2 linked regions of the Homo sapiens genome follow. The protein of the gene in region 1 purifies or fractionates together with the protein of each later gene. This does not show direct contact. Each region holds a gene or a part of one and is shown in the gene's direction. Other genes may lie near its edges.

Region 1 (3,500 bases):
CACCACAACCTCCACCTCCCCGGTTCAAGCGATTCTCCTGCCTCAGCCTCCCAAGTAGCTGGGATTACAGGCATGCGCCACCACGCCCGGCTAATTTTGTATTTTTAGTAGAGACAGGGTTTCTCCATGTTGGTCAGGCTGGTCTCAAACTCCCGACCCCGCCTCAGACTCCCAAAGTGCTGGGATTACAGGCGTAAGCCACTGCACCCGGCCTATGATTTTTTTATTTTAATTTTTATTCTGTTTATTTATTTTTTGAGACGGAGTCTTGCTCCGTTGCCCAGGCTGGAGTGCAGTGGTGGCACCTCGGCTCACTGCAACCACTGTCTCCTGGGTTCAAGCGATTTTTGTACCTTAGCTTCTCTAGTAGCTGGGACTACAGGTGCCTGCCACCACACTCAGCTAATTTTTGTATTTTTAGTAGAGATGGGGTTTTGCCATGTTGGCCAGGCTGGTCTCGAACTCCTGACCTCAAGTGATCCACCTGCTTTGGGCTCCTAAAATTCTGGGATTACAGACACAAGCCACCATAGCCAGCCTGAATGTATATGATTTTAGAAGGTATGTATCACGGAGCATTTGCACAGAGTGAATAGAATAAAAGTCCCCATATCACTGCATTTTAAGACAGGTACTTACTGTAGAATAAACCTTTTTTTTTGTTTGTTTTTTGAGACGGAGTCTTGCTCTGTTGCCCAGTCTGGAGTGCAATGACGTGATCTTGGCTCACTGCAACCTCCACCACCCGGGTTCAAGCAATTCTCCTGCCTCAGCCCCCAGAGTAGCTGGGATTGCAGGCACACACCAACATGCCCAACTAATTATTATTATTTTTATTTTTTATTTTTGAGTCTCACCTGTCATCCAGGCTGGAGTGCAGTAGCGTGATCTCGGCTCACCGCAACCTCCACTTCCTGGGTTTAAGCGATTCACCTGCCTCAGCCTCCTGAGTAGCTGGGATTACTGGCGCCCACCACCACGCCTGGCTAATTTTTGTATTTTTAGTAGAGACGAGGTTTCACCATGTTGGCCATGCTTGTCTCGAACTCTTGACCTCAGGTGATCCACCTTCCTCAGCCTCCCAAAGTGTTGGGATTACAGGCGTGAGCCACCACGCCCAGCCCAGAATAAACTTTCTAAGATAGTTTTTCAGTAAAGGCAAACGTAAAACAAACATTTAAAAACTAGGCAGGGTGTGGTGGCTCACGCCTGTAATCCCAGCACTTTGGGAGAACCAGGGGGCGATCACCTGAGGTTGGGAGTTCAGAGCAGCCTAACCAACATGGAAAAACCCCGTCTCTACTAACAATACAAAATTAGCCGGGTGTGGTGACACATGCCTGTAATCCCAGCTACTCGGGAGTCTGAGGCAGGAGAATTGCTTGAACCCGGGAGGTGGAGGTTGTGGTGAACCAAGATCATGCCGTTGCACTCCAGCCTGGGCAACAAGAGCAAAACTCCGTCTCAAAAAAATAAAAATAAAATTAAAAACTCAACCCGAAGCAACCTCAGGAGCCTACCCCATTGTAAACACTATGACAGGCAGCTGGTGAGGAGAGCAGGCTTGCCTGCTGAATCTTCAGGAAAGGGCCCATCTTCTCTACCAGCCTTGCTTGATGGGCCTCCAGACTTACTTTCCTGTTCTTTTGGGCAAGTAATGCTTTAAACAATTTTTCATACTGAATTTTCCTTACACTTTTCTGGTGATCGTTACAAAGGTGGTGAAGGTTTTCTGTTTTCTCCAATTTCCAGGCTGGTGCAGTTTGTCTTGATATCTTTTTTTTTCCCCATGGGTCTCAGTCCTCTTGCCCGGGCTGGGGTGCAGTGGTGTGATCACTGCTCACTACCAGGAGGTAGCCTTGACCTCCTGGGTTCAAGTGATCCTCCGACCTTAGCTTCCAGAGTAACTAGGGACTACAGGCATGCATCACCATACCTGACTAGTTTTTTGTATTTTTAGTAGAAATGGAGTCTCACCATGTGGCCCAGGCCATTTTCAAACACCTGGGCTCAAGTGATACTCCTGCCTCGGCCTCCCAAAGTGCTGGGTTTACAGGCATGAGCCACCACACCCGGCTGACTTGTTATCTTAAGACTGGACTTTGCCATGCCTGTTAAACTTCAAGAAGATTTGATCTGCTCTAATATAATTTTTAAAGACTCTTCTGTATTACTGTTATCTTTGCTATATTATGACTATTTTTTATTTATTTATTTTTTCGAGATGGAGTCTCGCTCTGTCGCCCAGGCTGGAGTGCAGTGGCATGATCTCAGCTCACTGCAACCTCCACCTCCTGGATTCAAGTGATTCTCCTGCCTCAGCCTCCCTAGAAGCTGAGATTACAGGCACATGCCACCACACTTGGCTAATTTTTGTATTTTTAGTAGAGACGGGGTTTCACCGTGTTGGCCAGGCTGGTCTTGAACTCCTGACCTCAGGTGATCCGCCTGCCTCAGCCTTCCAAAGTGCTGGGATTACAGCTGTGAGCCATCGCACCTGACCAAGACTTTAAATTGATGTGAAAATCAGGCATCTCACAGTACTAAAAAAAAAAAAATTTTTTTTGAAAAATACAAGTGCTGAGTTTTTTTGATGGTAGAACAATTTTGTCTTTTTTTTTTTGAGACCAAGTCTCCCCCTTTCACCCAGGTCGGAGTGAAGTGGTGCGATCTCGGCTCACTGCAACCTCCGCCCCCCCAGGTTCAAGCGAATTCTCCTGCCTCAGCCTCCCGAGTAGCTGGGATTATGGGCACGTGCCACCATGCCTGGCTAATTTTTGTGTTTTTAGTAGAGATGAGGTTTCGCCATGTTGGCCAGGCTGGTCTCCAACTCCTGACCTCAGGTGATCCACCCGCCTCGGCCTCCCAAAGTGCTGGGATTACAGGCGTGAGCCACCGTGTCCGGCCTTATTTTTTATTTTTTTGAGGCAAGATCTCACTCTGTCACCCAGACTGGAATGCAGTGGCTCAATCTCAGCTCACTTGCAGCCTTGACCTTCTGCACTGAAGCGATTCTCCCACCTTAGCCTCCTGAGTATCTGGGACTACAGATGTGCGCCACCATGCCTGGCTAATTTTTGTTTTGTAGAGGCGGGGTTTTGCCATGTTCCCCAGGCTGATCTCAAACTCCTGAGCTCAAGCAGTTTGTCAGCCTTGGCCTTCAAAGTGCTAGGATTACAGGCGTGAGCCACTGTGCCCGGCCATGAGAGCAATTTTTTTTTTTTTTTTGAGACGGAGTCTTGCTCTGTCACCCAGGCTGGAGTGCAGTGGCATGATCTTGGCTCACTGCAACCTCTGCCTCCCGGATTCAAGCTATTCTTCTGCCTCAGCCTCCCAAGTAGCTGGGACTACAGGCACACGCCACCACGCCCAGCTAATTTTTGTATTTTTAGTAAAGATGGGGTTTCATCATATTGGTCAGGCTGGCGTTGAACTCCTGACCTTGTGATCCACCCACCTCGCCCTCCCAAAGTGCTGGGATTACAGGCGTGAGCCACAGT
Region 2 (3,500 bases), on another chromosome or scaffold:
GGTAAATTAACTGAATGTGCAATATGATCTCAAATATTATAAGAAACACACACAGAAAAAAATGGAAGGAATATGCCGATATATTAATGCCTCTGGATGAGTTTATGAATGATTTTTTCTTTTTTATATCCCTGTACTTGACATATTTTCTACAATAAGCATGTTTTATTTTACTATATTTTGTTTTATTTTGAGATGGGGGTCTCCCTATGTTTCTCAGGCTGACCTTGAACTCTTGGGCTCAAGCAATCCTCCAATATCAGCCTCCTGAGTAGCTGGGACTACAGGTGCACCCCACTGCACCCAGCTGCGTGTGTTATTTTGATATCGATGGAAAAAATAAATAAAATGTTTAAGCCAAGGAAAACAAAAACTAGGTTGAAAAAGAAGGCCAAAAGGGCACACAAGTCCAGAGTGAAAGACAGACACCCCAGCAGTCACCCTCAGAGCAGAGGGAGAATATTGAAAGTATTACCACTGATCTGATCTGGCACTGACTATAAACTTGCAGATTGGCTCTCTGGCTCTCCTTCCATCATCAGTTGGCCAGAATATATTGTCGCTAATGCAAGACAAAAAGAGATGATGAATCACAGAGACCTAGAAGTTTCCAAAACCACAGAAGAAAAATGTAAAATGCTAAAAACATAAGGCCAGGCGCGGTGGCTCAAGCCTGTAATCCCAGCATTTTGGGAGGCCGAGGCAGGTGTCATGGTGTGCGGCTGTAGTCCAAGCTACTCAGGAGGCTGAGGCAAGAGAATTGCTTGAAACTGGGAGGTAGCGATTGCAGTGAGCCAAGATTGCGCTACTGTACCGAAGCCTGGATGACAGAGCGAGACTCTGTCTCAAAAATAAATAAATAAATAAATAAATAAATAAAACATGAACTGCTGTGGAAGAACCAGAGAGCCCTAAGGCCTCCTGTAAATGACTACAGCAGGAGAGTTTCCCTGGTCAGCATGCAGCTTTCGAAAATTGAGTTTGGCTTGATGCCTTCATCACAAATTTGGTCCCCTGTAGCCTTGACTATGAAGCTTATCATAAAATAATTGGGTTTCACTGGGGCCCGAACAAAAGCATCTTGGGAATTTAACAAGATTAAAGGTTGCTTTGTTGCTGTGGGTATGATTTTTTTTTCTTTTTTCTTTTTTTTTTTTTTTGAGACGGAGTCTGACTCTGTCACCCAGGCTGGAGTGCAGTGGCACGATCTCGGCTCACTGCAACCTCCGCCTCCTGGGTTCAAGCAATTCTCCTGCCTCAGCCTCCTGAGTAACTGGGATTACAGGTGCGCGCCACCACGCCAGGCTAATTTTTGTATTTTTAGTAGAGACAGGGTTTCTCCATGTTGGTCAGGCTGGCTGCTCTCAAACTCCTGACCTTGCCATCCAGCCGCCTCAGCCTCCCAAAGTGCTGGGATTACAGGCATGAGCTACCACACGTGGCCATATGTAAATTTTAAACATGTAAACCAATACTGTATATCTTTTATAGATATTTACATCTGTAATGATAATATGAAAACGTACCTAGGAATGATAAACACCAAATTCAAGATATTGGTAATCTCTAAGGAGGGAGAAGACTAAGATTTTGGAGTACATAAAGGGGTCTTGATTATATAGATAGTATTTCAGTTCTTAACACGTTCTCTTCTGGTCCCAAGGCCAAGGAATTCTCAATTGAAATCTCAGTTAGAACGTGAAGGATGCTTCTTGGGACTGGGAAGAGATTTTCCGTAGGCCAAATTTAACCTCCCACTAGAGATAGTTGATAATTCTACCACATTTCATAGTGAAGCATCAGGAAGACAGGACTGAAAAGGCAAGAAGGAATGATGCAAATTGCATAGTCCAAAAGATAAGCTGGACCTAGGTTTGCCAGTTTGTCTAAGTAACTGAGAATTCATTCTGAGATCAAAAAATCAAAATAATGTTCACAGCAGCATTGTTTATCACTGAAAGCAAACAACCTAAATGTCCATCAACAGGAGAATGAATAAATATATTGGAATGTATTCATCATATAGAATATTTTATGCATATAAAAATGAATTAAAACATATGAAGTAGAACTAGCCAGATAAATAAATCCTAACATATTATATTGAGGGGAAAAAAGCAAGTTGCTGGAGAATGTGTACCATATATATATATATAAATTTTCTTTTTTTTTTTTTTTTTTTTTCGCGACCGAGTTTCACTCTTGTTGCCCAGGCTGGAGTGCAATGGCAAGATCTCGGCTCACTGCAACCTCTGCCTCCCGGGTTCAAGGGATTCTCCCGCCTCAGCCTCCTGAGTAGCTGGGAGAGTAGCGTTGGCCCAGCTAGTTTTTGTATTTTTAGTAGAGACAGGGTTTCTCCATGTTGGTCAGGCTGGCTGCTCTCAAACTCCTGACCTTGTCATCCACCCGCCTCAGCCTCCCAAAGTGCTGGGATTACAGGCCTGAGTTACCGCACCTGGCCATATGTAAATTTTAAACATGTAAACCAATACTATATATCTTTTATAGATACTTACATCTGTAATAATAATATGAAAACATACCTAGGAATGATAAACACCAAACTCAAGATATTGGTAATCTCTATGGAGGGAGAAGACTAAGATTTTGGAGTACATAAAGGGGTCTTGATTATATAGATTGTATCTCACTTCTTAACACGTGAGGCAATATGGCACAATTTTAGGATTTTGTAGAGCTAAGCGGTGAGTCCAAGATTGTAATGTTATAGTCCCTGTACTTTCTATTTGAAATATTTCATAATATAAAACAAAGTATATTTGAGGCCAGGTGCAGCAGCTCATGCCTGTAATCCCCACACTTTGGAAGGCTGAGACAAGAAGATCACTTGCATCCAGGAGTTTGAGACTAGCCTAGGCAACAAAGTGAGACCCGTGTCTCTACAAAAAAATTAAAAATTAGCTGGGTGTGGTAGTGCACACCTGTAGTCCCAGCTACTTGAGAGGCTGAGGCAGGAGGATCGCTTGAGCCCAGGAGGTGGAGGCTGCAGTGAGTGGTGATCTTGCTACTGCACTCCATCCTGGGTGACAGAGTGAGACCCTGTCTCAAAAAAATAGAAGGTATATTTGATCAAAGTTTTATATTCACAGTAAGCAATAAGAACCCTAGGGACAGAGAAGGGTGGATGTTCCACCTAAACACTGTGCTTTCATTCCATCAACAATGAAACATCCAGGAAAGGAAACAACAAGTGACTCTAGAAATTCACTAGTTAGACAGAATCTCCTTGGGAATGATTTAAAGAGGGAAAATGTAAGAAAACCTGGCAAGACTAAGAAGAGTCCTCAAGTGCAAAAAAAGTATAGTTGACAGTTACCAGAGACAGATCATCCTTACCAGCCTGGAGGAATATTGCAGAGGAAAGAGCTTAGGATCTTGAATACTCTCTTATCTCCTGTATTTACCACCATTTCCTCTCTTGCTGAACATTCCTAGAAAATGGAGAGGAGTTTGTCACAACTGCTCTTTGATGATAGCCA

The links. Proteins that work in one complex are often made in the same cells at the same time.
Region 2: the proteins of PRPSAP2 (region 1) and BTK purify together in Homo sapiens (co-immunoprecipitation; one large-scale study listed by IntAct). This does not show direct contact.

The regions. Positions count from the first base shown.
Region 1 is NC_000017.11:18,878,631-18,882,130, forward strand, and holds part of PRPSAP2 (phosphoribosyl pyrophosphate synthase-associated protein 2), read left to right. Parts: intron 1-3,500. UniProt on the Homo sapiens protein: Seems to play a negative regulatory role in 5-phosphoribose 1-diphosphate synthesis.
Region 2 is NC_000023.11:101,379,692-101,383,191, reverse strand, and holds part of BTK (tyrosine-protein kinase BTK), read left to right. Parts: intron 1-3,500. UniProt on the Homo sapiens protein: Non-receptor tyrosine kinase indispensable for B lymphocyte development, differentiation and signaling. Binding of antigen to the B-cell antigen receptor (BCR) triggers signaling that ultimately leads to B-cell activation.